4 separate regions of the Homo sapiens genome follow, and regions 1, 2 and 3 are each linked to region 4. The links come from fine-mapping of genetic effects on gene expression. A gene starts in region 4. Each other region holds a variant in brackets. All regions are shown on one strand. Distances are from middle to middle.

Region 1 (8,097 bases), 42 kb before region 4:
GTTTGTGAAGGGAGGAGGCTGGGCTAACAGGATCTAGGGAGATAGATGATATCTGGACCTTAGGTAGTTCGTGTTACTCAAAGTCAGCAAGGTTTTTGTTGTTTTTTGAGACAGTCTTGTTATGTTGCCCAGCCTGGAGTGCAGCAGTGCGATCTCAGCTCGCTGCAACCTCCACCCCGTGGGTTCAAGCAATTCTTGTGCCTCAGCCTCCTGAGTAGCTGGGACTACAGGTGCGGGCCGCCACACTTGGCTAATTTTTTGTACTTTTAGTAGAGATGGAGTTTCACCATGTTGGCCAGGCTGGTCTTGAAGTCCTGTCCTCAAGTGATCTGCCTGCCGCAGCTTACCACAAGTGCTGGGATTACAGGTGTGAGCCACTGCACCTGGCCAAGATCATTTGATGTTCTTGGGTGAATGGCCACTTTCACCTGGATCCCACCAATTTTTGGTGCCCTAGGGAGCATGATCCAGAGTTCCCTCAAGACAGAGGATGTGCTAAAGGCAAACTCCAGAGGTCATCCTATCCCCATGCCTTCCGCCTTTCTAAAGAGAAGCTCTTCTGCCCTGCTGTTACCACTCAGTACTCTAGATTAAACCTGTTCCCCACGTTCATTCTGTACCCATGACTATATTTCTGCTTCCTGGAAAGTTGTAGCCATAGGAATGAAAAACTCACCAATCAGTTGTGGTCTTCCTGAGGCAAGTCAGTCACCTTCCTACTCTGGTATCTTCCATGGCTACCAGCTGGCCACAGAACCAAGCACTGACTCACCAGCCTCCAGTCTGGTTCCTTTTCAGCCTTTTTGCCACCCCTACAGCCCATACTACATCATCCATTCTGGCCATCTCAGATTCTTCCTTGCTAGCTCCCACCTTTCCCTGCATCCAGTCCTCTGTACTATTTCATCTATTTGAACACTCTTTTCTCCCTGCATCCTGGGTCTCCATTCAAATCTTCCTCTTCCCTGGAAGTACAGCTTCAGTGGTTAACATCACAAAGCAAAGCTGACTTCAGCAAACTTTCCAAGACAACCAGGGACCAACACAGTTCAGATTAAAGGGGATAAATAAAGTGGCTTTAAGATCACTTGTAGTTCAGAGGTCACCCAGGGGATTAGGATCTATGCAGAGACCTGCAGAGCCACGCTGCTTCCCCAAGGGACCCCCTTCATGCTGCTGGAACTTGCCCTACCCCTCAGGAGAAACTGGGCTGCTGTAGCTGCGTCACGCAGGCGGCTGTGGGCCAGCCCGGAGCAAAACTGTGTTGCTTGGCATTTCTCCACTTCCTCTCGTGGCCGACGTCATTCTGTGACTGTGCAGGGATTCATGCTCGCCATTGCACTCCACAGTGAGATACTTGAATTGATTTAAAATTTATTCACCCCAGTGTTCACTCCCACCTTAGCCCCATTCCATGCGCCCTTACCCTTACTCATCGCAGTATCAAAATAACTCCCAAATGGGATTGCTGTGCTTGAACACCTCCCATCATGCCTCTTACCTTCTGCATGCATTTAGTTAGTTCCTGAAGCATACAGCCCCCTCACCTGCAAGCCCCGCCTCAGCGCACACCCTTGCCAGGTTGGAGGAAGTCCTGGTACCCGGAGCAGTTTGCTTTGTTTTTGCAGTGTCAGTGATCTCACAAGCACTTGGTTGGCCACACAGTCCTATCGATAACTTCCAGCAGATAACCCAAGTGGGTGACTGGGGGGTGGAAGCCAGGTCTCGGTTCCTGTGTGTGACCCAAGGCCCCCCAGCACAGGGCCCACCCTCTCATCTGGCTCAGCCAGGTCTTGCAGAATGGGCTCTGCTGAGATCTAACCAGACACATTTGCTATCTGTTAGGTGAGCTCATTCCTGGAACCTAGCAGGTATTCCGTTCATGGCTGACTCTCAAGGGAATGAAGGGAAAAGGAAGAGCGGGTCTGAGATCCTTTGGATTATCTTTACGAAGCAAAAGCTTCTGTGAACTGTGATCTTCAGAACGAATGCTGGGCCTATCCAGGTCTGTCCGCAGTACCCAAAGTCGTAGCTCCGTGATGAGCTATGATGTAGCCCAGCCACACTCAGTGACGGCTCCTGGTTCCTCACTTGCCAGGGCAGCTTCAGTTCCTGCCGCGGTGTCAGTGCAGATTGATTCCCGCTGCGTTACTGAACGAACTCCTGACCCTGGGCTCTGAGCTGATGAGCTGGCTCCAGAAGGTGTTAATCATCATCACTCAGGTGTGCTGTCCTCACAGAGTCCTGGTGCACCTGGGATCCCAGTAGCTCCACATTTTCTTTGCTGCCTTCGAGGTTCACATCTTCAGGGTCCCACTATGGAGAAAAGATGCAAAGGGTAGCTGGGTGGAACGGATAGATGCTTCTCATCTGTCATAACCCCTGACCCAAACAAAAGCTCCAATCTTGGTTCTCATGATCCAGGCACAGACAAGGACAAAAGGGTAAGGACAAGTTACCCAGGCCTGTGTTTCTGGGACCTAAGGAGGCAAGCATAACTTTACATCAAGCAACTAATGAACAACCACCCTAAACATAACAGCTTCACTTTCCTTCCCGCCCTCATTCTCCACTCTTCTCTGCCTCTACCAAGTCCTTATCTAGTGACACTGAGTCATGTTCTCCTTATCCTGACTCCATGCCTAACTCATTCCTGGAAAAAACCAGGCAAACTTAATCCTTTTTTATTTTTTTAAGACAGGGTCTTGCGGTGTCACCCAGGCTAGAGTACAGTGGTGCAATCATAGCTCACTGCTGCCTCAAACTCCTAGACTCAAGCAATCCTCCTGCTTCAGCCTCCCGAGTAGCTGGGACTACAGGTGTGTACCACAATGCCTGGCTAAGTTTTTAATTTTTAGTAGAGATAAAGTCTTGCAATGTTGCCCAGGCTGATCTCGAACTCCTGGACCTAAGCAGTCCTCCCGCCTCAGCCTCCCAAAGTGCTCAGCTTACAGGCTTGAGCCACCATGCCCAGCTTCAACCTATTCTTTATGGGCCAGGTAAATACCTCTTCCCCCAGGAAGCCTACCTTGACCGTGTTAGCCCATTGAGCTCTCACCTGCCTTTCTCTTTGTATTACCTATTCCACTGATTTGCCCCTGAGCACGGACAGCCCTGGCGTTTATGCGGACATCTGCCTTGTTGTCTCAGGTAGATGATGGGCTCCACGGGAACAGAGCAAACGTTCGCTCCTGCTCCTACACGGTGTTTCCTCTAAACCTGAGGCTCAGCCGACTTGTCATCACTTAAAACCCAATTCAGAGCGGGGGGGCACTGCCAGTGAATAGTTCATCACCGACTCAGGTGGGTTTGGGAAGTTGAAATTTGCAGGGGTGAGTGACGGGTTAATACAAGTGGGCACAGAAGCATTGACAAAGCTGTCTGTGAAGCCCTCCTGCTGTTCTAAGATGATGGATTAGAGCCCAAGGGGATCCTTGGTGTTACCTTTGAGGTTCCAGCCATGGAGGCAAGTAGGGATTGGGCTCCAGTTCTCCTCCTGTCACTAATTTGCCTTCGTTTTTGGGGCCTCAGTTTCCCCATGTGTATGCTGTGGTATTGGATCAGCAACGAGATAAGAAGATCTCTCCCATTTCCAAGCGTCTATGATGATTCTGAGGCACAAGGTCACATTTGACAGTACTAGGAAACCCAGGAAACAAGAAGCAAAGATGACAAAGGCTGTGTCTGCCTGGGCAGACGATCTATTTGGACAAGATAATAGACCCAGGCATGGACATGCTCTCCAAGAAAGATGCCCTGACAGCTGCTCACACTGAAGCTGAATCGAACATTCCAATCCTTAGAGGTTCCAGCGAAGATCTTGAAGTCTCCCTGAGCCATTGACACAATGGCCATGCCATCCCAGTGATAAAACACAAATTGTGGCCTTGTTTTGGACAGAAATAAAGAGCCCAGTTTGTTAGTGATTTACTGATAATAACTGAATCGAGTACTAATACTTGGCGATTTTAAAAGCCATCATGTTAAAAAGACCACCTGATTCCCAGTGACCCTGCAGTGACTGGGTTTGGGCAGCTCGTCCCCTGCACCTGTTTGGGGCTGTGCCAGCCACTTCCAGTGAGAACATCGCATTAACTTGCGGTCGCAGACCTGGCTGGACCCCTTGAACCAAATTCCTTTCTGACCTTATCAGACCCCAAATAAAAGAGCTCACCAGGCCCCTCAGCCTACGTGACCCACCTGCCCAGTGAAAAAAGTAGGGCCCTGTTCTGTTCTCTGAGGATGGTCAGTGTGCTCTTTGATGAAAACGGTTTCTAAGCTGAGGCCTGAGACCTAGATCATTGTTCTCACAGCGTGTGCTTGACCAGCCACACCAGAAGCACCCAGGCTGCTGGCTAAAAACACTGATGCTGGGGCCCACCCTAGCCCCTGGGTAGGGGGTAGAGACCTAAGGTTTGGCATTTTTACAAGCTCCTAGGGTGATTCTTAGATGCCCTGATGATTGAGAACCACTGCTCGAGCTTCTTAAATGGCTGCTGAAGAATGATTCTTGCCAACCGTGACCAGTTCAGCAGCCTGCAGACAGAAACCTGTCACTTTGATCAGGTGAGCTCTTTAAACTAGTACAGGCCGGGCACGGGGACTCACGCCTGTAATCTCAGCACTTTGGGAGACTGAGGCGGGCAGATCACCTAAGGTCAGGAGTTCAAGACCAGCCTGGCCAACATGGTGAAACCCCGTCTCTACCAAAAATACAAAAATTAGCCAAGTATAGTGGTGGGCGCCCGTAATCCCAGCTACTTGGGAGGCTGACACAAGAGAATCGCTTGAACCTGGGAGGCAGAGGTTGCAGTGAGCTGAGACTGTGTGATTGTACTCCAGCCTAGGCAACAAGAGCGAAACTCCATCTCAAGAAATAAATAAATAGGCTGGGTGTGGTGGCTCACGCCTGTAATCCCAACACTCTGGGAGGCTGAGGCGGGTGGATCACCTGAGGTCAGGAGTTCGAGACCAGCCTGGCCAACATGGTGAAACCCCATCTCTATTAAAAATACAAAAAATTAGCCAGGCATGGTGACAGGCGCCTATAATCCCAGCCACTTGGGAGGCTGAAGCAGGAGAATCG[T/C]TTGAACCCCGGAGGCGGAGGTTGCAGTGAGCCGAGATCACGCCACTGTACTCCAGCGTGGGCGACAAGAGTGAAATTCTGTCTCAAAAAATAAATAAATACATAAATAAGTAAGTAAAAATAAAGTGGTACAAATCTTAGAAAACATTTAGAATCTATTTTTTCTGACTCTCCAGAATAATGTGTTTTAAAACTTCATTATTTATTTATTTATTTATTTTGAGACAGAGTCTCACTCCATCACCCAGGCTGGAGGCATGATCTGGGCTCACTGCAACCTCTGCCTCCTGGGTTCAAGTGATTCTCCTGCCTTAGTATCCTGAGTAGCTGGGACCACAGGTACACACCACCACACCTGGCTAATTTTTGTATTTTTAGTAGAGATGGGGATCTCGCCACGTTGGCCAGACTGGTCTCCAACTCCTGACCTCAGGTGATCCGCCCCCCTCAGCCTTCCAAAGTGTTGGGATTACAGGTGTGAGCCAACGTGCCCGGCCTAAAAACTTCATTTTATAATAAAATCATTGGGCCAGGCGTGGTGGCTCACGCCTGTAATCCCAGCACTTTGGGAGGCCGAGGCGGGTGGATCATGAGGTCAGGAGATCGAGACCATCCTGGCTAACAAGGTGAAACCCCGTCTCTACTAAAAATACAAAAAATTAGCCGGGCGCGGTGGCGGGCGCCTGTAGTCCCAGCTACTCGGGAGGCTGAGGCAGGAGAATGGCATGAACCCAGGAGGCGGAGCTTGCAGTGAGCCGAGATCGCACCACTGCAGTCCGCAGTCCGGCCTGGGCGACAGAGCGAGACTCCGTCTCAAAAAAAAAAAAAAAAAAATCATTGCTGGAAACCAGGCATGAAGAGAATCTGAGCAAAAGATCCATTTTCATATCAGAAACAATCCTGGGAGATGACAGGCACAGGTAGTTGTCACAAAACATGCCTGTCACTTGGAGGCAAGGGTGGCATGGAGACAGCAGCCAGCTGCCCAGGGTCCCAGAATGACAATGTCTGGAACTGTTTATTGCAACAGCTACTGCAGCCATGCCGGCCACTACTACTGTTGTTCCAAACCATGTTTCTTCACTGGGTTACACGTCTTCTTGGAGTCCCTATTACTTGGGCTTACCTGAATACCCCCAAAGCAGAAAGAACTCTGACCTGAGAGAGCCCTGAAAATCCCATTCATCCTCAGTCTTGCCTCTCATTTTGACTTTTTTTTTTTTGAGATGGAGTTTCACTCTTGTTGCCCAGGCTGGAGTGCAATGGTGCAATCTCGGCTCACTGCAACCTTCATCTCCCAGGTTCAAGCGATTCACTTGCCTCAGCCCCTGAGTAGCTGGGATTACAGGCATGTGACACCATGCCCGGCTAATTTTGTATCTTTAGTAGAGACAGGGTTTCACCATGTTGGCCAGGCTGGTCTTGAACTCCTGACCTCAGGTGATCGCCCACCTCGGCCTCCCAAAGTGCTAGGATTACAGGTGTGAGCCACCGCGCCTGGCCTGACATTCTTTTTTTACTGAAGGAATTTGTCATGGGTCTAGCCATCTAACAAGGTCTAACAAAAACAGGAACTGAAATCAAGCCATAGGAAGTCCCTCCTGGAAGAGAAAGAGCATGATCGTCCATACCTGCTCCGAGTTTAGGGCCTCCCAATACTTCTGCTGCAGAATAAAAAGAGAGACAGAAAAAGTGTTGGACAGATTTTGCCACCATCCCACAGCAGAGCAGAGCTCAGGACCAGCTCCTGTCTGCTCAGTGAGCCAGGAGACAGGCCCTTAGATGGTTGGGGGCAAAGGAACAGGTGACTTCAGCAAGCAGGAAGGCAGCAGCTACTAGCAGTTACAATTTAGTTAAATGATCAATGAGATAGTTATGATAATTATGAAGGGCTGCACGTCCTGGGAAAAATTACAATCTATCAAGATTTAAAAATTACTATTAGTAGAAATTATTATTATTATTAGGAGGAGTAGCAGTAATAATAATAAATCTCCCATTTATTAACCACATGGCTGAGATGATTCAACTCAAACCCATAAAACTGAGATGCCAATAAAATTCCTGCCTTGCAAATATGGGGTATTTGCTACCAGCCAAGATTCATTTGTAGTCAGTGTTTACTGCATGGTTGGTTCCACTCCAAACCTCAAATATGTCTGACTCAAGTTCTTGCAGGGCAGGCATCACGTCTGCCCTTGTTACTCCAGCACCTCCTGCAGCGCCTGGGAAACATATGTTTCTGACATGAGCTAAGAATCTATGAATATCTGTTACATTGATCTGGGAATGTCTATTAAATTAAATAGCAGGCAGTCCGAGCAGTCCACAGGATTTAGGGTTATTATCACATTAAAACAAAAGCATGTTCAACTCCTTAACATTTTTCATTAAAAAAAATCAATTAATTAATTTTTTTGAGAGAGGGGCTTGCTCTGTCGCCCAGGCTGTAGTGCAGTGGCATGGTCATAGCCCACTGCTGCCTCCATCTCCTGGGCTCAACTGATCTTCCTGCCTCAGACTCCTGAGTAGCTGGGACTACAGGTGTGTACCACCATGCCTGGCTGACATTTATTTTATTTTTTTAGTGGAGATGAGGTCTATGGTGCCCAGGCTGGTCTTGAACTCCTGAGCTCAAGCAATCCTCCCACCCTGGCCACCCAAAATGCTGGGATTACAGGCATGAGCCACAGCACCTGGCCTAATTTTCTATCTATCTATCTATCTATCTATCTATCTATCTATCTATCTATCTATATCTATCTATCTGTGTATGATGGAGTTTCACTCTTGTCACAGGCTGGAGTGTAATGGTACGATCTCGGCTCACTGCAATCTCTGCCTCCCAGGTTCAAGCAATTCTCCTGCCTCAGTCTCCTGAGTAGCTGGGATTACAGGCGCCCAGGACCATGCCCAGCTAATTTTGTATTTTTAGTAGAGATGGGGTTTCACCATGTTGGCCAGGCTGGTCTCGAACTCCTGGCCTCAAGTGATCAGCTTGCCTCAGCCTC
Region 2 (8,103 bases), 30 kb after region 4:
ACCCAGCTCAACACACACTCCACGGTCAACAGATGCCTGATAAACAGAGACGGGAGAAAAGGACAGGGAAAAAGACAGTACTTCCTAAGTCTCTCCATCTCTACGATTCTAATTACTAATTTCTTTTCATAGCTGTTGTTATTATTATTATTTTGAGACAGAGTTTCGCTCTTGTTGCCCAGGCTGGAGTGCACTGGCATGATCTCGGTTCACTACAACCTCCGCCTCCCAGGTTCAGCCGATTCTCCTGCCTCAGCCTCCCGAGTAGCTGGGATTACAGGCACCCGCCACCATGCCCGGCTAATGTTGTATTTTCAGTAGAGATGGGGTTTCTCCATGTTGGTAGGGCTGGTCTCGAACTCCCGACCTCAGGTGATCTGCCCCTCTCGGCTTCCCAAAGTGCTGGGATTACAGGAGTGAGCCACGGCACCTGGCCCTCTTATAGATATTATTTTATTCAAAAGTAAAAATAAAGCCCAAACTACTTTTGCAAAATTTGGGCTAAAAGATAAAATATGTGGTATATCCTAATTTAGGGTTACTTAGTTTCTCTGTTTTCAAAACAAAGTCAAAAGAGATTCTAATCAAGTCCTGAGAACTGACTACATCCTTCAGTTGTACTCTTGTGTTCTGACTTCTCTTAAAAGCAGTTACAGGGTCATTGTGGAACTTCCTATACAATTTCCTGTCTACAACCTTTTAAAAAAATTTAAAAATACAGCTAATATCAGTGTGTAACAACACTGGAGAGGTCAGACTGTCCAACAACCACAGAGAAAGTAACTTTGTGATTCACTTTCTATAGGTCATCCTAATCCAGCACACAGAGGAAAAACTCTAATTCCCACAGATTTTCCATAAGAATAAACAAAACACAAACGAAGCACATTAACAAGAAATCAAAATTCCCTCTTTGAAAGCCAACCTAAAATGTCCCTCAGGTTACCTCAGAGTCACCATTCAGGGGAATGGCTCCGGCCAAAGCTGACCAGAAAATAACCTTCACATCTTCTTTTTCGAAGTACATGGCCCAGGCACTCCGCTGCTCAGCAGTCAGCAAGTCTGCCTTGTTGATCAGAATGACGTTCTCCTTATTGGCATCCATTTCTTTCACATAACATTCCTAAGCAAGACAAAGAGATTTAGAAAGACCTCTTCAAACAAGTAAAAAAATGAGGCTAATTATATTAAAGATCCCAATACAAGTTTTTACTGCCCCTAGTTTTAAATCATTTCCTAATTTAAACATTTTTAATCATGACACATTATACTAATCCTTTCAGTAAGCTTTGAAAAGAAGTTCCACCATTAATATTTTTGTTATGCACCAGTGGGTTTAAAAATAATCTGGGCCAGGCATGGGGGCTCACGCCTGTAATTCCAGCACTTTGGGAGGCGGAGGAGGGAGGATTGCTTGAGCCCAGGAGTTCGAGACCAGCCTGGGCAACATGACAAGATCCTGTCTCTACAAAAAATTAGATCTATAAGATAGTAATAAATAAATAAATAATATGTATTACAGTTCTCAAAAAGAAATATGAATACCTCACATATTATACAATGTTTTGTTAACTAACCCAAAGCTGTATTACATTATTTCATGGGACTCTCACATGTTAGTTATCAGCCCCTGTGGTGTTTCATAAACTTAGTTCACTTGTAAAATACCACAGGGAGTCATAACTAAAGTGTGAGAAGACAGAACCTTATGGGATGAATTAAAAAGTGAAGTGACCGGCAATATGCTAAAATAAATAAAATGCTATTTCAACTGGTGTTCCCTGACAAATGGGAAACCGGCAAATGCCTTAAGTGGCTTCTAAACTAAAAGCTAGAAAGCTCATTTAAGTGTCTGTGCCTTCCTGCAGATGGACACCATTGTTTGAGAAAACATCTGTCTCAACAGTGGCGTTCTGCAAGCTCCTGGCCTTGGAAGGAGGGAAGGCCTCACTAAACGAAGCCAGAGAGGGCAGAATGTATGCCTACAGTCATTGCTGAGGGATGCGGTGCTGGCACTGCTACTCAAAGGACTGATGTTTGAATTTTGTCAAACTTGACTTACCAAATCCTCACATCTAAACAGGAGTGGGTTTCGAGCATCTACTATCTGGACCACAATATCACTGAAAAACAAACACGAGATAGACCAATCACCGTGAAGTGAAAGGGATTTTACTAACCACATAATAATGGCCAGAGTAGCAAACCCTGGCAATATATTAAGCACTGGACATATATTAACTTTTTAAGGTATAATTATTCCCGGTTTATATATGAGTGACTTAAGGCTCAGAGCAGTTAAGTAACTTGCCCAAGGCCACCAGCTAGTAAGTAACACAGCCAGAATGGGAGCCCAGGCAGCCTGGACCAGAGGTGATGCTCTTAATCATAACATGCTATTGCTCTCATACAGCCTAGAGGGGTTCGGATGATGTTTCATTGCTAAGACATCCACCGTACTTCTATTAAACTGTCCTGGTGAGATAAAAGAGTATTCCAAACACTTCACTCCACGGCAAAGTCTACTAAATATTCAATCCCTAATCTGCCCTCATGTTAAGGCCTCAAAAGAAAACTAGTAAATCACTTGCTGACAGCTGCCACTATTGAAGCTAGTATCTTATTTAAACCCAGGAATAAGAAGGAAGAAAGCATATTTTTGGCAAACAATCATCCACCAATTCCAACAATGTGTTTAAATGGCAAAAAGAGAAAACAGGAAAGTATTAACTTAGGTTGCCCGGCTGAAGCAGGAATGGCAAGTCCAACTTCTTCCATCACGTATAAGAAAGTACAGCAATAAGATAACTTTCTGCAGCTGGTGGCAAGCCCCTCAAATCCCTCACAAATATAGTGGGGACTACAGGTGTCCAGCACTGCAAGGAGAAAAAAAAATTCCCTTCTATGGGAGGCTCCTCCCTTCCTTCAGCCTCTGTGCTAGATGTTATAAAGGCCCACCGTGACTGCCGCTGGGAGGACATAAGCTACAGATGCATGACTACCTCACGGCAGAGTCTCCCCAAAATCCTTATTCTGTTAACCAGCCTTTTCTGAGGCAACTTTGCAAATATGCTAAATTCCAAGGAATTAAGGTTACCATTTAGGACATTCTTTTGACAATTAAAAGTGCATTTTCTTTTAGGATAGTTAAAATGTCAGCATAATCCTCTGACACAAACTCACAGAGTTGCTAATTTTGGACAAATTGTTTTTTAAGTTCTCTAGTTCAGCTGCTTCTAGTATTTCCTTCTTTAAGGTAATAATGCACTTTCAAACTGGATATTTAATAGTGAATGAAAAAATGATTACAAAAAAATGGACAAAGCCTAATCAACTAAAACTACAATGTCTACAAACATTATGTTTACATACAGAACATGTAGGAAGAACCATCAGTTTAGAAATAGCAGTAAGAAAAGACATTTCAAGACAGCTGCTTCATGTGCTGAGTGAGGATGCAGAGCAAAGCACCAGCCATGTAGCAGGAGGGGT[C/T]TACACAGCACAATGGAAGTGCCTTATCTGACTGGAAGACAGTGTTCCGCCCTCAGTGCCTCTGCGGTTTCCTGCATTTCAAGGACATGTTATACATCTAATCTTTTCTGATAACTACTATTAGAATTAAAGAGGCAGATGGTTTAGCCAGCCTGTTACCAAACAGGAGACATCTGCTGTGGAGAAGACATCAATAAATATTTCCCATTCAAAGATGTGGCGGCAGTCATTTTTAAATAAATATTTCTGTGTAATTCAGATCCACTTTCATATAACTATATTCCTTGAGCTAGAAAACATGTTCTCTTATTTAAAAAAAGGAGAAATATCACATAACAAAAATAAGAGAGCAAATAATACTGTAATCCAAGCTGAAGCTAGAAGTTTCAACATGTACAGGCTCACTTGGGAAATTATTAGGGACATAAACAGTGTAAGAGGGGCTTCCTGTTAAACTGAACACAGATGGTTACCTCTGCTCCCTCTCAAAACCTACAAAAACAAAGGCTGAAACCCATTAGGATAAAGAGAAAGAACAGCAGCAACCAAATGTCAAACCAACAAGAAGCAAACCTGTTCATGCCCCTGACGCCCAAGAAAGCCCAGTATTAGAAACATCAGCTCTATCTCTCCAGGGCAAGAACGAGGCCCGCGCCCGTAATCCATCTGAACAGTGAGCTCATAGGTCGGCTACCCTGTTCCATTCAGTGAGGCAACTGCAACCCACCACACAGCCCCCATTCCCCACCCCAATAGCAGAAGGCTAGGGTTTATTATGGAGAAAATGAACTTGACAAGTTCCAGGACTGGGACCTCAGGCACAGGGAAAATGGGAAAGAGTTGCCATAGGGCAAAAAGGGGAATTCAGCATAAGCCTATGAAGATACTGAACTGTGAAGGTGCCCAGCACCCTTGTATTATACCACCTCCTGCCCCTTTCCTGGCAGGAGATCATTCTTCTTTTTAAAAACTGACTGGCACTGGGCACAGTGGCTCATGCCTGTAACCCCAGCACTTTGGGAGGCTGAAGTGGGTGGATCACCTGAGGTCAGGAGTTCGAGACCAGCCTGGCCAACATGGAGAAACCCCGTCTCTACTAAAAATACAAAATTAGCCGGGCGTGGTGGCGCGTGCCTGTAATCCCAGCTACTCGGGAGGCTGAGGCAGGAAAATCGCTTGAACCCAGGAGGTGGAGATTGCAGTGAGCCGAGATCACGCCACTGCACTCCAGCCTGGGTAACAAGAGCGAAAGTCCGTCTCAAAAAACAAAACAAAACCACACACACACAAAACTGACTGGCTCTGGGGAAAAGACCTACAGATCTTAACATCTTGGGGTATTCCAACAAAATAAAACTGACCCCTGCCCAGGCACCCTACAGTGAAGCTCACCAGTTGGCAAATTCCACCTAAACAGGCAGGCTTGTCAACCGGCTTTGTAATGCTTTGTTCTTAAAGACAGATAAACACCACTAGACACCTGAGGAAGGCCTCTTCCGTAAAAGTCAGAAACCAGGAGAAAAAGAAAAGGAACAAAGAGGAAAGACAGATAATATAGGAAGTAGGACAAAATCTGAAAACAAAACAAAAACTGTAATTAAGTGTGAAGATGGAGGGTGCTGTCCTCAAGGTCCGGGCTGCAGTACTTCTGCACTTGTTACCATTTCTCTTCGGAAATTAGAAAACGGGCATTCTCAGGAGTACACAGCATCAACTACCAAGGAGGCACCAACGAAGAGGCTACTCTGCTCCACAGCAGTTCCCCAGTTCCCCAGGAGAATGACTGTGGGCCTTCCGAAGCCCTCCTCAAGCTTGAGTAAAAGGAGCCTGCATGGACCCCAAATCAGCAGAAACCCTTTCCCTTCTTCCGCCTCAGAGAAAGCCTTTCCCTTCTTCCGCCTCAGAGAAAGCCTTTCCCTTCTTCCGCCTCAGAGAAAGCCTTTCCCTTCTTCCGCCTCAGAGAAAGCCTTTCCCTTCTTCCGCCTCAGAGAAAGCCTTTCCCTTCTTCCGCCTCAGAGAAAGCCTTTCCCTTCTTCCGCCTCAGAGAAAGCCTTTCCCTTCTTCCGCCTCAGAGAAAGCCTTTCCCTTCTTCCGCCTCAGAGAAAGCCTTTCCCTTCTTCCGCCTCAGAGAAAGCCTTTCCCTTCTTCCGCCTCAGAGAAAGCCTTTCCCTTCTTCCGCCTCAGAGAAAGCCTTTCCCTTCTTCCGCCTCAGAGAAAGCCTTTCCCTTCTTCCGCCTCAGAGAAAGCCTTTCCCTTCTTCCGCCTCAGAGAAAGCCTTTCCCTTCTTCTGCCTCAGAGAAAGCCTTTCCCTTCTTCTGCCTTAGAGATTTGCCTTGCTTCTCTGACCTCCCCGCATCCCAGCCCAAGAGCCCTTTCTGTACCCGTAGAGAGCTGAGGATGGGGGCATTCAAGTGACTTTGTCATCACCCTAATAGGAAATGTAAGTGACTTTTACAAGTTTAGTCCAAGTACTGTTTTCTTTTTTTTGGAGACAGAGTCTTGCTCTGTCACCCAGGCTGGAGTGCAGTGGTGCGATCTCGGCTCACTGCAACCTCCACCTCCTGGATTCAAGTGATTCTCCTGCCTCAGCTTCCCAAGTAGTAGCCAAGCCTGGCTATTTTTGTATTTTTAGTAGGGACAGGGTTTCACCACGTTCCTCAGGCTGGTATCGAACTGCTGACTTCAAGTGATCCACCTGCCTGGACCTCCTAAAGTGCTGGGATCACAGGTGTGAGCCACCGCGCTGGGCCCTGTTTTCTTAATAACAATGCTAAATGTGATAAGATTCTTTTCTGAGAATCCCAATTAAAGCATTCTGTTTCCTAGTGTTCTTACTAGGTTCACTTTATAGATTTCAAAGGAAAAAAAACCAGCCTGAAGGGTCCTTGTTGAAAACATTTCAAATATAAGGTTCATTTATGGCATCCTTGAAAGTAATTCAGAAACTCTTTGAGGAAAACAGAAACCTTTTAACTATACCAAAGAGGTGAGATTAGAGACAGGTGTTCATCAACTTCTAACAATCAGGAATTCTCCTTAGCATTACATGAAAAAGAATAAAGATCTCCCATTCTCAATTTGTCAAAATCATTCTCTTCTTTTCAGAGCCCAGTTAAAAAAAATAAAAACCAGGCCGGGCATGGTGGCTCATGCCTGTAATCCTAGCACTTTGGGAGGCTGAGGCGGGTGGATCACGAGGTCAGGAGTTCGAGACCAGCCTGACCAACATGGTGAAACCCTGTCTCTACTAAAAATACAAAAAAAAAAATTAGCTGGGCGTGGTGGTGTGCGCCTGTAATCTCAGCCACTTGGGAGGCTGAGGCGGGAGCACTGCTTGAACCCAGGAGGCGGAGGTTGTGGTGAGCTGAGATCGTGCCATTGCACTCCAGCCTGGGCAATAAGAGCAAAACTCCGTCTCAAATAAATAAATAAATAAATAAATAAATAAAAAACATAAAAACCACCCCGTGATTTCCTCAATACTTATCAACCACTCCTTCCTCTGCTATGACTCAGCCCACTGCCTTTCTATCTGCAGCAAAGCAGGAATCATACTGCCCTCTGTATTTCACTACGTATTAAGTTTTCTGAGTGCAAGAATTGCATGTCATTCATCTGTGTGTCCCTGGTGCCTGGTGCTTTGCTTAGCATTTAGCTGAACATGGTGTAACTCGGCTGACAGGAGCTCTGACATTCGCCTCTCCCCATAACATAGATGCTCTTTGCAGGCAGGAACTTAACTCTTTTTCGTATCCATATTTTCCACATTACCAGTAGAAACCAAATATACATTTGCTAAAATATCTATATAGGTGCTTCAGAATTCACCTTGCAGAAAATGTTCATTATTCTCACACACTTATCAACATATTCATCTAACAACAAAAAAACTATACAAAATATACGGTAGTATCATGCTGTGTTTTTATAATTCTCAGTAACCCTCTGCATAGCTTAATTCCCATACCCTGAGCCTATAAGCCTATATCAACAGCCAAATCGAATATAACTTCACTACAATGTCTTTATTACACAAAAGAAAATGATAATTCACCTTCTCTCAATGACTCTCCAGAGCTGGCGCCAAAAGTCCAAATTTCGTTCAAATGGAGTCAATATCAGCTTCTGTTCCTCTTCTAGCCTAGTTTTTGAATGAGAAGTTTATATATTTGCCAGATTATAATAGACAATTTTTAGCAGTGTAAATGCTCAAATTTATTACATTAAAAATAAGTACTGGGCACAAATATCCAGAGTCAAATTATTTTATATATTTCCTGCTGAGACACCATAAAAATACTATTTATTTAGACAATACTCCACCAAATTCAAATTTTATCCTGAAGCTATTTATGCCCTGGAAGTTTACCTATCACACAAAGTCATTTCTTTCCCACACTCTTACTGGAAAAATGTGCAGGAGAGCAGCGATCAACTCCAGGATGCCCAATGGCCAAAGAAGGGAATGAAAGGAAAAGGCCCGGAACTGAGCAGAGTAACCAACTCACGATCTCTGTGCAAGGATGCATTTGCACCTAGCAATCTTGTTTGTGCATACATCTATTTGCACTTGTTAGCAGAATGCTACCATTTCCTTCTTAAAAGAATCAA
Region 3 (8,103 bases), 47 kb after region 4:
AAGATGGGCCAGATCCTCCCGATTCCCCACGTAGCTGAACGCTTCCGTTAAAGCCAGGATTCTCTGAAAAGCTGGCTCCTGGAGGAGGCTGCATTGATTTGGGGATTGGAAGCCTGGCACCCAGCTTCTAAATAGTGACACAGGGAGTGTTCCCTATTCATGGGGTTGCATAATGCTTGATTTCTACCGCGTCTCAACAAATGTAGTTACAAGCTCTGAAACCCACACCCAGCAACAAACTTTGGAGTTGCTTTCAGCTTTCCAAGTCCACACTGTTGTGCCTCTGGGCTCCACATCTGTCTGAGGAAGGAGAGGAAAGAGTGGGTTGGTTTCTGTTGTTTTTCCTGTCATACTTTGGCCAAAAATGAGTTGGTGGCAGAAAAGTTGTTCCAAGGCGAGCTTGCAGTCTGGTCTCTCCTTCTTTCCCATACGATACACCACCTCCTTCTACAAGGACATTAAAACAGTTTGCATAAGACTGAGAGTTGTGAAAATAGACACTGGCAGCCTCTGTAGAGCGTAATTGAATCAGTAGGGAAACTCCCTATGATTAACTGCCATTCTCAGTTTATCCCTATTGAAAATGGGTGGATTCTCACGAGTTTCATAATTCAGCAGATTTTAAAAAATCTTTTAAATTGACATATAATAATTGTATGTATGTATGAGGTGGTTTTGATACATGTATACATTGTGTAATAATCAAATCCGAGTATTCAGCATATCCATCACCTCAGTTATCATTTCTTTCTGGTAAGAACATTCAAAATCCTCTCTTCTAGTTATTTTGAAATATACAACACAATATTGTCAACCATAGTCACCCTACTGTCAGCAGACATTTATTGGTGGCTATTATAATGATTAATTTGAGTCCCTGCAATCAAACATTGATTTCTTGCCTGTGCAAGGAAATGTGTAAAAGACCTCTTGCTTTGGTGACACAGGCCACAAGATCCTATGTATTTGAACCCACGAACTTTTTCTCAACTCGTGTTATGTATGGAATATCTAGTGTCTTTTATTCAGAGATGCCTTTGCAATTACTTTTTCCCTCTTGACAGTCAAGTGAAAAAGGGTATTGTTATTTTACTGCACTTTTAGCTGTAGAAGTTGAGTCTCAATAGGGTTAAGTTAAGCAAATAAAGTAAAATAAAGGAGGCTAGAAGTAGAATTAATAATCACCAACTCTAAAATCTGTACATGGAAAGTCCTAGGTTTCTCCCATTCATTCATTCACTCATTCATTCATTCACTCACTCATCCATTCATTCATTCACTCATTCATTCATTCATTCATTCATTCATTCATTCATTGGTTCATTCATCACAGGACTCTGAGGATTCAGCACTGGACGAACTCCCTGCCCTGAAGAGCTTACACTTTAGTGGTGATCAGCCTAATAGAGAGACTCAGCCAGGGTTAAAGAGCTCAAGTCAGGGAGCCATGAACTACACCACCAGGTAGACCTTACTCCATTAAGAGGGCTTCTGACCACCAGGATTTTATGTTTTGTCTCTGAAAGTGATCCATCTCCTTAATTCCCCATAGTAAATATCCTAATACATATATGCATGTAAACCATAGTAAATATCCTAATATATATATGCATGTAAACCTGGATGGTGCTGGAACGCACAACTATGTCGTATGAGGAAAAGGTGATGGAAATGAGACTAGCCTAAGGAGGGAGGCTCCAGGGGTATGTGGGAACCATTTCCATTGATGTGGAGGACTGTCATAGGGAAAGGAGAGAAGACTGTTCTGAGAAGACACAAGGCAAGAACAACCAGAACAAATGGGTAGAAATCACAGGGTTATAATTTGAGGTTCAATTTGTTGGAAACTTCTTACAATCAGAGGGGCTCAAAGACATATTGGACAGCTTAGTAAGGTAGTGAGCTCCCTGCCACCAGAGGCATTCAAGCAAAAACCAGATAATCAGGTGTCAGATGTTCTAAGTCAGGTTCAAGCCTCAAAGTGGGTGTTGGAATAAAGAACTGCTAAGGTACTTAACAGATTCCTGACCCTGGTAGGTTCTCTTCCTTTTTATGCTATCCCTTGCCTCATCCCAGTATTTGAAATCGCAAGGGAACAGTGATGGTCTCAGAAATGGTGCCTAGGTTGGCAAAAGCAGGGTGGTGCCTTCAGCATGTCACATGAGAAAAAGAGTACATCTTGCCCTCATTGTCATGAGATAGTTGAGGGTACCGAGAACCAACATTTAGCAAATTCAGCCATCATTAGTCACAGATACTACTAACACAAATGGAAATGTTAAAAAGAATCAGTTTGAATGAAAGATCCATGGTTTCTGCTTTAAAGTTAATCATGTAGGGGTAACATGTCCCCTCCTTCCATCTTCAGAGGGGACAAACCCATCTTGACTGGTCCCTGCCTTTGGTGGCACTGAGGAGAAGGCTCGTTTGTAAGGCTCATGATTTCATCACTCTTGGCTTCCTTCTAGTGCCCTTGCATTTCTGCCTGGATCTCCAAAGCCTATGTTCTTTGTGTTTGGGTCAGGCGAGGGCCTGACTCCTGATGGCAGGTTGTCCATCAGAACAACTACCTTCTGCATGGACCATTTTCTTCCTCTGGACCGCTCTCTCCTGCCTCTGTCTACGGCAATCTGCCCATCCTTCCATGCTTAGCATGAAGTCCGCTTCCTTCCTAAAGAGGGCCCTGGCCTGGGCACTGTTTGACTACACGTTATTTCTCCTGCAATGGGAAATGGGCTACCAGACTCTCAGAGACCCAAGTGCGAACCTCGTCCAAGGTTCCAAGCAAGCAGCCCATGAAAGGAGAGGCTCCAAGGCAAGGGGCATGGTGAGAACACTTCTGGGAGCTTTGGTCACAGGGTGACCTCCAGAGTTCGTAGACCTCTGACTTGTCTGTTGGTTCTCTCTCACTCCTGCAATTTCCTGTCATGGGCTCTGTTTTGATCTTTTGTCTTTTATATTTATTTATTTATTTATTTTCAGCGCGCTTTGTTGGAAACATGGCTTCTGTTTTGAGTTAATGGTGTCCCTTACAAAGACATGATCAGGCCTGGTGGCTCATGCCTGTATGTAATCCCAGCATTTTGGGAGGCTGAGGTGGGAGGATTACTTGAGCCCAGGAGGTCGAGGTTGTGGTGAGCTATGATAGTGCCACTGCACTCCAGCCTGGGCAACAGAGCGAGACCTAACCCCTAGTACTTGTGGATGTGCTTTTATTTGGAAAAAGGTCTTTTTTTTTGAGATGAGGTTTCACTATGTTGTGCAGGCTTGGTCTCAACCTCCTGGGCTCAAATGACCCTTCTGCCTGGGCCTCCTGAATATTGGGATTACAGGCATGAGCCACTCACTGTACCAGGTTTGGAAAAGGGTGTTTGCAGATGTAATCAAGTGAAGATGAACTCATACTGGATTAGACGGGCCCTAATCCAGTAACTACTGTTTTAGAAAGAGAAACATTTGGCTGCATATGCAGAAGACAAAGAAGGAGAGGCCAGAGGCAGAGACTGGAGCAATATGTCTAAAAAACAAGGAACGCCAAGGATGACAGGCAGCCATCAGAAGGCAGTAAGATGCAAGGAAGGATGCTGCCTTCTCCCAACCTCCAAAATTGTGAGGATACATTGTTGTTGTTTTCAGCCACCTCATTTATGGTAATCTGTTATGGCAGCTGCAGGAAATACCTGCAGCTTTCTTGTGATCTTAGAAATGAATGAGGATTTGCTCAGCTCCCCAATAGGCAGAGAAGGGCAGCAGCGTGCTCCGGGACCCTCGGTGAGTCAGGGCTGGAGGGCGGGGGTCTGGATTCCTTCTTGGCCAATCTTGTGTACCTGAGCCTTGGCTCTGATCGTGGCATGTCCCTGCTCTAGCACCTCCAGTGACTCACCACAGCTTATGAGACGCCTCCTCCTGCCATTCAGGGCCATCAGGAGTCAGGCCCTGGCCTGACCCAAACACAAAGAACACAGGCTTTGGAGATCTTGGGCAAATTTCTTAACTCCTCCAAGCTGTGGTCCTTTCCCCCGGAAAAATGAAGAGACTAGCACAGACCTGACAACACTCTTAGGAGCATGAAATGTTTGGACGGATCTGACTCAGCACAGTGTCTGACATGCGGTAGGGGCTCAGTGCTTTTGCATTCCCTCCTTTTGCCCAGTTGTTGGATGTTCAACACTAACTACCTTCTGCATGGGCCATTTTCTTCCTCTGGACCGCTCTCTCCTGCCTCTGTTGACAGCAATCTGCCCCTCCTTCCATGCTTAGCATGAAGTCCACTTCCTTCCTAAAGAGGGCCCTGGTCTGGGCACTGTTTGACTACAAGTTATTTCTCCTGCAATGGGAAATGGGCTACCAGACTCTCAGAGACCCAAGTGCGATGTCGACCACAACAGAGACCCGTCTCACTGGTGGAGTCCTGTGACAGTCATGCTTGACTCTAACGTCTTTGGGGGCAGTGAGAGCCATTAGCAAAGTGCACTTTTCATTAAGGGGCCCAGCGAGTGGCCACTCAGTCAAGTCACAGAAGTATGTTTGGCTTTCTGCTCCTGTTCAGATCATCAAATGAACCTGTGAGCCCCCAAGCAGCTCTTCCTAGAGGGGGAGCAAACGAAGGACGTGGGTTCTACATACATATATGTGTTTAGAAGCTTTTGGCTTTACGTTTAGCCACAGGAAAGGGCCCTGGATTGAGATTCAG[A/G]CCACATGGATCCTCATATTGGTGTGGCCACTAAGTTACTGTATGGCCATGCACCTGCGCTGTCAGGGCCTCAGTGTCCTCATTTGTAAAGCCAGGGGAGGTTGACTAGATTATCTCGAAGGGCCTTCCAGACAACGCTCTTCCAGTTCTGACAGTCTGTGCTCATGACAGTCCCATGACTTTGAAAATAAACACATGGTTAATGTTCGTTCTAGAAACACTTGCCATACATTAATTTGGTGGCTGGCATTGTGCTGGAAGTTGGGGATACAAAGAGTGAATAAAATACAGTCACCAGCCATAAGGAGCCCATAGTCTACTGGGGGAGACAGAGAGTTAAAGACGATACTATAGGCCAGGCACGGTGGCTCGCGCCTGTAATCCCAGCATGTTGGGAGGCCGAGGTGGGCAGATCACAAGGTCAGGAGTTCGAGACCAGCCTGGCCTTGGTGAAACCTCGTCTCTACTTAAAAAATACAAAAATTAGCCAGACGCGCTTTTGCGCACCTGTAATCCCAGCTACTCAGGAGGCTGAGGCAGGAGAATCACTTGAACCTAGGAGGCAGAGGTTGCAGCCGGCCGAGATTGTGCCGTTGCACTCCAGCCTGGGCAACAGAGACTCCATCTCAAAAAAAAAAAAAAATTAGCCGGGCATGGTGGTGGGTGCCTGTAATCCCAGCTACTCAAGGGGCTGAGGCAGGAGAATCACTTGAACCTGGCAGGCAGAGGTTGCAGTGAGCCAAGATCACGCACTCCAGCCTGGGCAACACAGCAAGACTCAAAAAAAGACAATATTATAACAGGGCAAGTGCAGAGGTAAGGATGCACACAAGGGCATGTGGAGAGGCGATGAGTAGGCCTAGGCGGTTTACCTGGAGAAAATGGTATCCAAGATGGCTCTGTAAGAATGAGTAAGCCTTGGCCGGGACAAATGGCAGGAGGAGGTCATATCAGTTAGATAGAGCCACATAAGGCATGGCAGGAAGGGAAAAACCACTCTCATGAGCATGGGGAGAAGCATAGGCTATTCTCTGTGGCTGGTTCATAAATTAGGAGTCCAGGAGAAAAGAATGAGGTTGGAGACATAGGCAGGTGCCAGACCTGAACATTCTCATGTGTTATACTGAGGAGTGGGAGTGTACCGTGTGGCTGATGGGAAGCCATTTTGAAGGTTAAAAGGGGAAGAGAGAAAAGGTCAGAGGTGTGGTTTGGTAAGTATTGAAGGTGGCTTTCAGAGGGGCAGGTTGAAGGGAGGAGAGACTTCGGAGCCTGGAGGAGGGAGGTGGGCTTGGGTGTGGACGTGCTTTTTGTAGGTTGGCAGGGGCTGGAGGTTGCTCTAACTGCCTCGTTTTTGTGGGGGAAGCACCCGGTCAGTTCTGCTGAGCTCTGGGGGAGCCAGTGGCTTTGGGAAACTAGTGAGGACTTAGCGTATGTGTTGAGGAGAGTGGGAGAGGGAAGAGAGTCAGGATAAGGGAAAAGATGGCTGGATGGGAGGTGTACTGCTGCTGGAACAAACTGCCACGAACGTAGTGGCCTAAATCAACACAAATTCACAGCGCTGCAGGTTAGAACCCAACACGGGCCTCACTGGGCTAAAACCAAGGTGTCTGATAGCCACCTTAAAGAAGCAAAAAGAAATAGGTAAGTTTTTGTTGTTGTTGTTGTTTTTTGAGACAGACTCTCGCTCTGTCGCCCAGGCAGGAGCGCAGTGGCACAATCTCGGCTCACTGCAACTTCTGCCTCCCAGGTTCAAGTGATTCTCCTGCCTCAGCCTCCCGAATAGCTGGTATTATAGGCATGCACCACTATGCCTAGCTAATGTTTGTATTTTTAGTAGAGACGGGGTTTCACCATGTTGACCAGGCTAGAGAAATAGGTAAAATTAATCTGAATAATTTATTTAAATCAACATAGCCAAAATACTATCATTCAATATATAATGAATATAACATTATGAAGATTTTTTGCATTCTTTTTGTTTTACTAAGTCCTGAAAATCCAGTGTGTAGTTCATACTCGTAGTGCGTCTAAATTTGGGCCAGCTATGGTTCAAGTGGCAGCAGCAGCCTGTGGCTGGTGACTGCGTACTGGGCCGCACAGGCTGCAATGCTCTCCCCCATCTCTTTGCAGGTTCATCTCATTCCTGTCTCTGCCCAGAGCCACCTTCCCTGGCCATGCTGTCTAAACCAGCCACCTCTCACTCCTAGCACTGCCTCCTTTTCTCCAGAGACTTTTCACTATCTGCTATTTCATTAGTTTTTTGTTTACTGTCTGCCCTCCTGCCTCCACCAGAGGCTATAAATCCCATGCAGGCAAAGACCTCTCTATCTGTCCTCTTTAGTGCTATATCCCCAGCAACTATGTGACATTCATGGGAGACTCTCCACAAGTATTTACTAGATGACATTGAAGATTCCAGATTCGTCATGTGTCATCTCTGAAGTCAATGTCCACTGAGTAGGATGTTGGAGGAGGGGCGAGAGGAAGGAGCATTATGTAAGACGTAAGGTGGGAGGAAGCTGGTCCAAATCCTCTGTGAGATGAAAGGCTTACTCCTGGATGTCAAGTTTAGGGCTGGGACTCCTGATGGCAGCATTTCCTTCCAACTGCGACCCGGTTGTGTGTAGTTTCAACCACTAGCTTATCTGGTTTGACGAGAAACCATCCACCGAGCAGCATTTCTGCCTGCTACCAGTAGATGGGGGCAGTGTCATTAAAAAAGTACACTGCAGTTTCTAACCTGTTTCCCAGCTCCACTTTGCTGACAGTCTGTTCTGGAGTTGCCCTGTCTCAGATCTGTGATGTGGACTCCCACATGGTGCTGCCAGCTCTCCCAGCTGAAGAAACGCAGCCTTAATTGTGATGTGTGCTTCAGGTGGGGTGGTCAGCTTCTCCATAAGGTGAGGCGGGCCCTAGAGGCTGGCACAGGTCCAGGCCACAAGGGGACCGCGGGTTCTCCTCCAGGGCATGACTCACACCAGGGTGTTCACACTGGCCTAGAACCTTTCTGTTCTCCCAAGGTTGGAAACAAGCTTATTAGGAAGGCGGTCAAGGCGTGACATAGCCTCGTCAACAGGAGCAGCTCTGTGGGCCTGTGCCGCTGGGACTGGCACTCCGGCTGCTGCTGAACAGCCCGGCCCACCAGTAGACTCCTCCCTGCCTCTGTGGGCCACTGGGGTCCATGCCACTGCATGAAGTGCAAAGTGGTGCCTCTCGCTGAGGCTGAGACCAGCCTTAGCTCCTGCTACTACTCCCTCTTCCTCTTCCCCAAACCCTCTTGAGCCTTGGAACTTTGAGCGATTTGGAAATGATCACTGCTTAAACATGATGTCTGCTTTTGTGGAGTTCAAGATTATGGACCTACTAAAGGTCACTGAACACAGCCTCATTTGATATGTTTTTACCAGAGT
Region 4 (8,087 bases):
GGAGGCCCAACATACCTGGATTGTGAGCTGTCTGGCCAGAAGAGCCCCGACGGTGTCACACAGACTGGTCAGGAGGCAGCACGCAGCACACAGTGCCGACTGGTCCTGTCTGGGTTTCTGTGCACATCTCAGATAGAGAAGCCTGGGGTGACAGGGGTGTGGACAGAACACAGCAACTGTGAGTTTGGACCCAAACGCATGTATCTAAAAAGGGCAACTGTGACCCCGCATCGTCAGGGAGCTCTTTCTGCCCGAGGTATTTAGGACGTGTTTTTGAACTGAGTTTACAGATGGGAACCAATCAGAAGACTCCAGAGCCGCCTGTCCAGATGCCCATGGCAGGAGCTAGACCTCGTGAGATGTGAAGACACCGCCTCTTTGGAGGAAGAGGAATTTTACTTTCCGACTCCAAATCAGGACGGCTCCATTTGATGACCCCCCACCTAGCACTGAAAAAGCAGCCATCGGGTTTTATTTTTTGAAAAGGAAACAGGAGGGTTATAAAAGTAACTCAGGCTGGGTATGGTGGCTCACACCTGTAATCCCAGCAGTTTGGGAGGCCGAGGCAGGAGGATCCTCTGAGGTCAGGAGTTCGAGACCATCCTGGCCAACATGGTGAAACCCCGCCCCTACTAAAAATACAAAAATTAGCCGGGTGTGGTGGCGTGCGCCTGTAATCCCAGCTACTCCGGAGGCTGAGGCAAGAGAATTGCTTGAACCCAGGAGGCAGAGGTTGCAGTGAGCCAAGATCACACCATTGCACTCCAGCCTGGGTGACAAAGCGAGACTCCGTCTCAAAAAAAAAAAAAAGCAACCCAACCACTGCAGATAACTGCAGAGCACAGTTAATTGCCTGAATTAAAAAGACAACTTGTTTCTCTGAAATAAATTCAAACGAAATTCTTCTAAACCATCTGTGAAGTGGGGCAGCCTGGCTTCTGCTGGCCTGTGTCCATGTTCTTTAAACACAGAGCCCTTTTGGCACTTGGAGCTGTCCCTCCCTCAGCGCCCCCACAGCCACTTCTCCCCTTACAGCCCCTCCCCAGTCCATATCCACTGGAGAAGATGCACGGAAGGGCAGGAAGGGGCTGGCTGTTTCTATCAGCGTCACTGATAGGGCCTCTGAAATACGTTGTTGTACATGCCTCCCGAAGGGGCTGGCTGTATCTATCGGCGTCACTGATAGGGCCTCTGAAATACATTGTCGTACATGCCTCCTGAAGGGGCTGGCTGTTTCTATCGGCGTCCCTGATAGGGCCTCTGAAACACGTTGTCGTACCTGCCTCCCGAAGGGGCTGGCTGTTTCCATCGGCGTCACTGACAGGGCCCCTGAAATAATACGCTGTCGTACCTGCCTCCCGGAGGGGCTGGCTGTTTCCATCGGCGTCACTGATAGGGCCCCTGAAATAATACGCTGTCGTACCTGCCTCCCGGAGGGGCTGGCTGTTTCCATCGGCGTCACTGATAGGGCCCCTGAAATAATACGCTGTCGTACCTGCCTCCCGAAGGGGCTGGCTGTTTCCATCGGCGTCACTGATAGGGCCCCTGAAATAATACGCTGTCGTACTGCCTCCCGAAGGGGCTGGCTGTTTCCATCGGCGTCACTGATAGGGCCCCTGAAATAGTATGCTGTCGTACCTGCCTCCAGAAGGGGCTGGCTGTTTCCATCGGCGTCACTGATAGGGTCCCTGAAATAATACGCTGTCGTACCTGCCTCCCGAAGGGGCTGGCTGTTTCCATCGGCGTCACTGATAGGGCCCCTGAAATAATACGCTGTCGTACCTGCTTCCCGAAGGGGCTGGCTGTTTCCATCGGCGTCACTGATAGGGCCCCTGAAATAATACGCTGTCGTACTGCCTCCCGAAGGGGCTGGCTGTTTCCATCGGCGTCACTGATAGGGCCCCTGAAATAGTATGCTGTCGTACCTGCCTCCAGAAGGGGCTGGCTGTTTCCATCGGCGTCACTGATAGGGCCCCTGAAATGATACGCTGTCGTACCTGCCTCCCGAAGGGGCTGGCTGTTTCCGTCGGCATCACTGATAGGGCCCCTGAAATAATACGCTGTCGTACTGCCTCCCGAAGGGGCTGGCTGTTTCCATCGGCGTCACTGATAGGGCCCCTGAAATAGTATGCTGTCGTACCTGCCTCCAGAAGGGGCTGGCTGTTTCCATCGGCGTCACTGATAGGGCCCCTGAAATGATACGCTGTCGTACCTGCCTCCCGAAGGGGCTGGCTGTTTCCATCGGCGTCACTGATAGGGCCCCTGAAATAGTATGCTGTCGTACCTGCCTCCAGAAGGGGCTGGCTGTTTCCATCGGCGTCACTGATAGGGCCCCTGAAATGATACGCTGTCGTACCTGCCTCCCGAAGGGGCTGGCTGTTTCCGTCGGCGTCACTGATGGGGCCTCTGAAATACGTTGTCGCACGTGCCTCCTGGAGGGGCTGGCTGTTTCCGTCGGCATCACTGATAGGGCCTCTGAAATAATACGCTGTCGTACCTGCCTCCCGAAGGGGCTGGCTGTTTCCGTCAGCGTCACTGATGGGGCCTCTGAAATACGTTGTCGCACATGCCTCCTGGAGGGGCTGGCTGTTTCCGTCGGCATCACTGATAGGGCCTCTGAAATAATACGCTGTTGTACCTGCCTCCCGAAGGGGCTGGCTGTTTCCGTCGGCATCACTGATAGGGCCTCTGAAATAATACGTTGTCGCACGTGCCTCCCGAAGGGGCTGGCTGTTTCTATTGGCGTCACCGATAGGGCCTCTGAAATACGTTGTCATACCTGCCTCCCGAAGGGGCTGGCTGTTTCCCTCAGCGTCACTGATAGGGCCTCTGAAATATGTTGTCGTACCTGCCTTCCGAAGGGGCTGGCTGTTTCTATCGGCGTCACTGATAGGGCCTCTGAAATACATTGTCGTACCTGCCTCCTTGCTACATTTCTCTGGAGACACCGAGACAGGGTGGCAGCGCTGGCTTCATTTCCACTCAGCAGAGGGTGGTGCTCATTCCACATCCTTAGGACGATTTAGCTGATTCTGAGCGCCTGTCCTTGGGAATGGTGGATGAGTACAGAGGGCTCTTGGCTTTCTAAACATTTCCTGACCTGCTGGCCCAAGCCTGAAGCTCACAGTGGCAACATCAACTTCAGTCTGGGCCCTGGGCTCCTAAAACCAATTGAAGACCAAGGAGTGGAGATTCTTAAATTGGAGACTCCCAGAGGCGGACCCCAATTAGAAATAATTTATATCAACCCTCCCATTTGAGAGGACAAAACTGAGGCCTCTGGTGAGAAGGTGAGTTAATGGTGGTCTTCTGGCTTCACACGCGGGGGCTTTGCTCCGTACCCTGTTGTTCTCAGCCACTTCCCCAGCTCTTGGGGCCAGGGTGCCAGCTGACCTTAACCCAGCCCACACACCACTCCGAAGACACATTCTTCTAAGAGAAAGGGGAGCAGGGGAGGTTCAGGGATGGCAAGGCCCTGAAAACAAATGGGTATGTCCAGATCCCAGGCAGGGTGAGAAGCAGAGGCTCACTCTTAACCCCTCCAAGGTTGGCAAAGTGCCTAACAGTGCTGGTCTGAGGACAACTGTGAGGAACAAAAGGATAATGCGTGTCCAGCGCCTTGTTAGTTTCCAGCCTCTGATCTGAACAGTTTAATCTCTCTTACCAGCCTGCCCCTTTCCAATAGGATCTGGGGTTTTGGTTCTTTCCTTTCACTCAGACAAGTTATTTAACCTCTCAGAACCTCAGGGTTCCCTACAGAAAGTGGGGGTAACAGCACCTACCTCCTGGTGCTGATATTGTGAGTGGCAGGCATTGAATGAGTTAATGAATGCAACACTGGGCCTACAGTAAATGTTCTAGGCGTCTTTTTATTTGTATTGCAGTACTGGGTAGTGGGGCTGCAGAATCTCTGCAATACGACCAAACGCCTTAGGAGAATATCCACTGAGTGCCTACAGGGAGACAGTTCTAACCTCTCCCAGGGGTGCTGGTCCTTTCTCCCCTGCCAGGGAATGCTTGGGCGGCACCATCCTGAGCACTGCTAGTGGATTTCCATGCCTAGGACAGAGCGGCTGAGGACCTGGAGATTCACTCTTAGAACTTAGGCTACCGTGGGCATCTGGACAAACCAGTCCAGGTGCTGGACAGACCAGGGCAAAGACAGGCCAGCTGGATCATATCACTACCTCCCTTCCCACCTAAGAGGACTTTGGGTAAACTGAGGCCAGAAACATCAAGGGACTTGCCAAGGTCCTAAGAGTTGGTGGCCTAGCTGGAGCAATACAAATGATGTTTAATGAGCATTTACTAAGTGCTTTAACGGTACTGATTCATCGAATCCTCCCATCATCCTATGAGGTATTATCTCCGGTCATAGGAGGCCCAGAGAGGTTCTGGAGCTTGCCCAGGTCACACTGCGAGTCAATGGCGAAGGGCTGACAATAGCACCCAGGGCTCGCGGTGTCCTCGGGGCCCCATCCGCTGCACCACCCAGCCTCCTCCCTTTGGCTCACAGCCCAGCTTCCCTGTGCGTGGGATCCGGAAAGAAGATCCCACTTCAGTCTACAGAGCAATGTTCCATTGGATCCTATTACTGAGCCATCTCCTTCATCCCCCTTTCCGCCCCCTCCTCTAGGTTTCCGAGAGGGAGCAGCAGGGGATTGGCGCCCGTTTCCCCGCCCGACAGCCCCCCGACCCGTGGCCCCATTACAGCGCGTGGGCGGCGATCCAGCAGGAGGAGGCGCAGATCCACAGGCCGAAGGAGATGCAGACGCGGTGGCGGGCGAAGCAGCGGTCCAGGTAGTCCCAGTCCCAGAGCGCGGGCGCGGGGCTGGGCGCCTCCCCCATGGCGCGGCTGGGCGCGCGGCGCGGGGCCGGGGACCTGGGCGCAGCCTCCCTCGCCGCGGGCAAGCCCCGAGCGCCGCCGCCCCGCGTGCCCTTCTCTGGGTTCCGTTCCGCCGCGGCGCCTCCGGCCGAGCGCACCGACCGCGGGCAGAGAAGGGCGCGCTCCCGGGCGCGGGCGGCGGCGGCGAAGGCGCCGGGGAAAAGTTTCCGGGACCGCGCGCTCCCCACCCCTCGCGCTATTGTCGGGGGTCGGCAGGGCGGAGGCCGCCCCCCAGCGGCGGGAGCCGGGAGCTGCGCGCGCACAAAGACTGCGGCCCCCGCCCCCCGCCGACCTCTTCGCGGTCACCCACCTCCAACATCCTGGCCGGAGCGGGGCGGGCGGCTGGGCTCGCGGACGGCCGAGTCCCTGCCGGTCGCTGTAAGGCACGGCGTCCCTTCCTGCGTATTGTCCACATTTCCTGAGCCAACAGCAATTAGTTGCGCTGCTGAAGCGCATGGGTGCTGGGATCCCGAGGTGAAGGGGGCGTGGTCCTGATCGCCGACAGGGCGCAGTAAAAAGGGTGGGGTGCAAGACCAGGAAGGAGGAAACAAACGTGCCGGAGAACAAATACCCCCACATCTGCCTCTCACTCTCCTTTCTGAAGCTGCCAACGGCACCCTCCGCCCCCAGGCAGTCGCCCAAGCCCTGCTCCTGGATGTCATCCTAGCCCACGGCCCCGCAGCCAAGAGCTGGTTATCTCTGCAACCGGCCGCCTCCTGTCCAGCCACACACCGCACAGTTCAAGTACACAGGGCTGTTTTTCTTGAGAGTAAACTATTATTGTAATTTTTAAATCTCCTTATTGATTTTAGTAGGTTTGTTTAAAGCAAGACATGACTTGAAAACAATATTTCTATAGAAGGAGCAGGATTGAAAAAAAGAAAAAAAATCTTTTTTAATTTTCAAAAACTACAGCTTTATTTAGATATTATTTATATGCCATAAGCATAGTCTTTTTTTTTTTTTTTTTTTTTGAGACAGAGTCTCACTCTGTTGCCCAGGCTGGAATGCAATGGTGCGATCTCAGCTCCCTGCAGCCTCCGCCTCCCAGGTTCAAGCAATTCTCCTGCCTCCGCCTCCCAAGTAGCTGGGACTACAGGTGCCCGCCACCACACCCGAGTAATTTTTGTATTTTTAGTAGAGACGGTGTTTCACCATGTTGGCCAGGCTGGTCTTAAACTCCTGACCTCGTGATCTGCCCTCCTCAGCCTCTTAAAGTGCTGGGATTACAGGTGTGAGCCACCACATCCAGCCTACATAGTACTTTTAAAATGTACAATTCTGGCCAGGCACGGTGGCTCACAACTGTAGTCCCTGCACTTTGGGAGGCTGAGGCAGGCGGATCACTTGAGGTCAGGAGCTCAAGACCGGCCTGGCCAACATGGTGAAACACTGTCTCTACTAAAAATACAAAAATTAGCCGGGCATGGTGGTGCGCGCCTGTAATCCCAGCACTTTGGGAGGCCGAGGCAGGTGGATCACTTGAGGTCAGGAGTTTGAGACCACCCTGGCCAACATGGTGAAACCCCATCTCTACTAAAAACACAAAAATTAGCCAGGCATGATGGCAGGCGCCTGTAATCCCAGCTACTCGGGAGACTGAGGCAGGAGAACTGCTTGAACCTGGGAGGCGGAGATTGCTGTGAGCTGAGATGGCGCCACTGCACTCCAGCCTGGGCGACAGAGCAAGACTCCATCTCAAAACAAAACAAAAAATAAAATGTACAATTCAGCAGTTTTTAGTGTATCCATAGCGTTGTGCAACCAACATCACTGTCTACTTTTAGAACATTTTCATCACCCCCATCTGAAAAGAACCCGGCCCACTGGCAGTTACTGTCCACTCCCCTCAACACTCGCAGCCCAGGAATCGCAAATCTACCTTCTGTCTCTATGGATTTGCCCATTTTGGACATTCCACATCAATGGAATCATCCACTATATGACCTTTCTGTGACTTTCACTTAGCATGTTTTCAAGGTTCATTCATGTTGCTGCGTGTTATCAGTACTTCATTCCTGTTTATGGCTCATCATAATACATGGTATGGGTATTTTTATACCACATTTCGTTTATCCACTCATTAGTGGGATGTTTGGATTGCTTTCACCTTTGGGCTATTATGAATAATGCTGCTCTGAACATTTGTGCACAAGTTTTTGTGTGGACACAGGTTTCATGCTCTCTTGGGTATATACCTAGGAGTGTCCTTGCTGGGATCTGTGGTAACTGTGTTTAATGTTTTGAGGAATTGCCAGACTATTTTCCAAAGTGGCTACACTATTTTAGTGGTTCACTGTGTTTTCAAAGTTATGATTTGGCTTGGTAAGGTGGCTCATGCCTGTAATCCCAGCACTCTGGGAGGCCAAGGTGGGAGGATCAGTGGAGCCCAGGAGTTGGAGACCAGCCTAGACAACATAGGGAGACCCCGGTCTCTCAAAACAAAACAAAGTTATAACCTCTCAGGAGAAATGAAATCTAATCACTAATTTGATGGTATTAGATTGGTGCAAAAGTAATTGTGGTTTTGGCTATTAAAAGTACTGGAAGCGGTAGCTCACGCCTGTAATCACAGCACTTTGGGAGGCTGAGGCGGGTGGATCACTTGAGGTCAGGAGTTCCGGACCAGCCTGGCCAACATGGTGAAACCCTGTCTCTACTAAAAATACAAAAATTAGCTGGGTGTGGTGGCAGGCACCTGTAATCCCAGCTACTTGGGAGGCGGAGGCAGGAGAATCTCTTGAACCTGGGAGGCAGAGGTTGCAGTGAGCCGAGATCACGCCACTGCACTCCAGCCTGGGCAACAGAGCAAGACTCTGTCTCAAACAAACAAACAAAACAAAACAAAACAAAAAAAGCCAGATAAAAGTACTTTGGTACAAAAGTAATTGCAGTTTTGGCCATTAAAAGTAAGCTTTGGTGCAAAAGTAATTGCGGTTTTGGCCATTAAGAGTAAGCCACTTTTTTTGGCCATTAAAAGTGGCTTACATTTAATGGCCAAAACCGCAATTACTTTTGCACCAAACTATATTAGGTGGCGCCTTTAGGAACCAGAAAGCAGGCCCTTCAACTAAATCTGCAGGCACCTTGATCTCGGACTTCCTAGCTTCCACAACTGTGAAAAACAAATCTGTGTTATTTACACGCCACTCAGTCCAAAGCATTTTGTTATAGTAGCTCAAATAGACTAAGACAGGCATTG

Evidence for each region.
Region 1: its variant is fine-mapped to the expression of TMEM44 in spleen (GTEx, PIP 0.98).
Region 2: its variant is fine-mapped to the expression of TMEM44 in whole blood (INTERVAL, PIP above 0.99).
Region 3: its variant is fine-mapped to the expression of TMEM44 in spleen (GTEx, PIP above 0.99).

The regions. Positions count from the first base shown.
Region 1 is chr3:194,586,324-194,594,420 of GRCh38, forward strand. It overlaps TMEM44 (transmembrane protein 44), which reads right to left. Exons shown (of 10, transcript NM_001011655.3): 10 at 1,355-2,316. The coding sequence ends at 2,206. It overlaps TMEM44-AS1 (TMEM44 antisense RNA 1), which reads left to right. Exons shown (of 3, transcript NR_047575.1): 2 at 2,702-2,819; 3 at 3,532-4,509. Among named protein-coding and RNA genes, the nearest start is that of TMEM44-AS1, 6.1 kb to the left of the region's middle. RefSeq lists an enhancer at 2,365-3,564. The variant T/C (reference allele first, on the strand shown) is at 5,087.
Region 2 is chr3:194,658,011-194,666,113 of GRCh38, forward strand. LSG1 (large 60S subunit nuclear export GTPase 1) reads right to left here. Exons shown (of 14, transcript NM_018385.3): 5 at 7,547-7,633; 6 at 2,063-2,123; 7 at 947-1,123. Among named protein-coding and RNA genes, the nearest start is that of LSG1, 10 kb to the right of the region's middle. RefSeq lists a silencer at 3,376-3,576. The variant C/T (reference allele first, on the strand shown) is at 3,493.
Region 3 is chr3:194,675,390-194,683,492 of GRCh38, forward strand. It overlaps LOC124909474, which reads right to left. Exons shown (of 3, transcript XM_047449428.1): 3 at 1-447. The coding sequence ends at 254. Among named protein-coding and RNA genes, the nearest start is that of FAM43A, 6.4 kb to the right of the region's middle. RefSeq lists enhancers at 1-307, 7,489-7,538. The variant A/G (reference allele first, on the strand shown) is at 4,694.
Region 4 is chr3:194,628,368-194,636,454 of GRCh38, forward strand. TMEM44 (transmembrane protein 44) reads right to left here and starts at 5,052. Exons shown (of 10, transcript NM_001011655.3): 1 at 4,712-5,052; 2 at 16-142. The coding sequence starts at 4,848. TMEM44-AS2 (TMEM44 antisense RNA 2) reads left to right here and starts at 4,561. Exons shown (of 2, transcript NR_186047.1): 1 at 4,561-4,800. RefSeq lists a silencer at 4,821-5,250 and an enhancer at 7,801-8,087.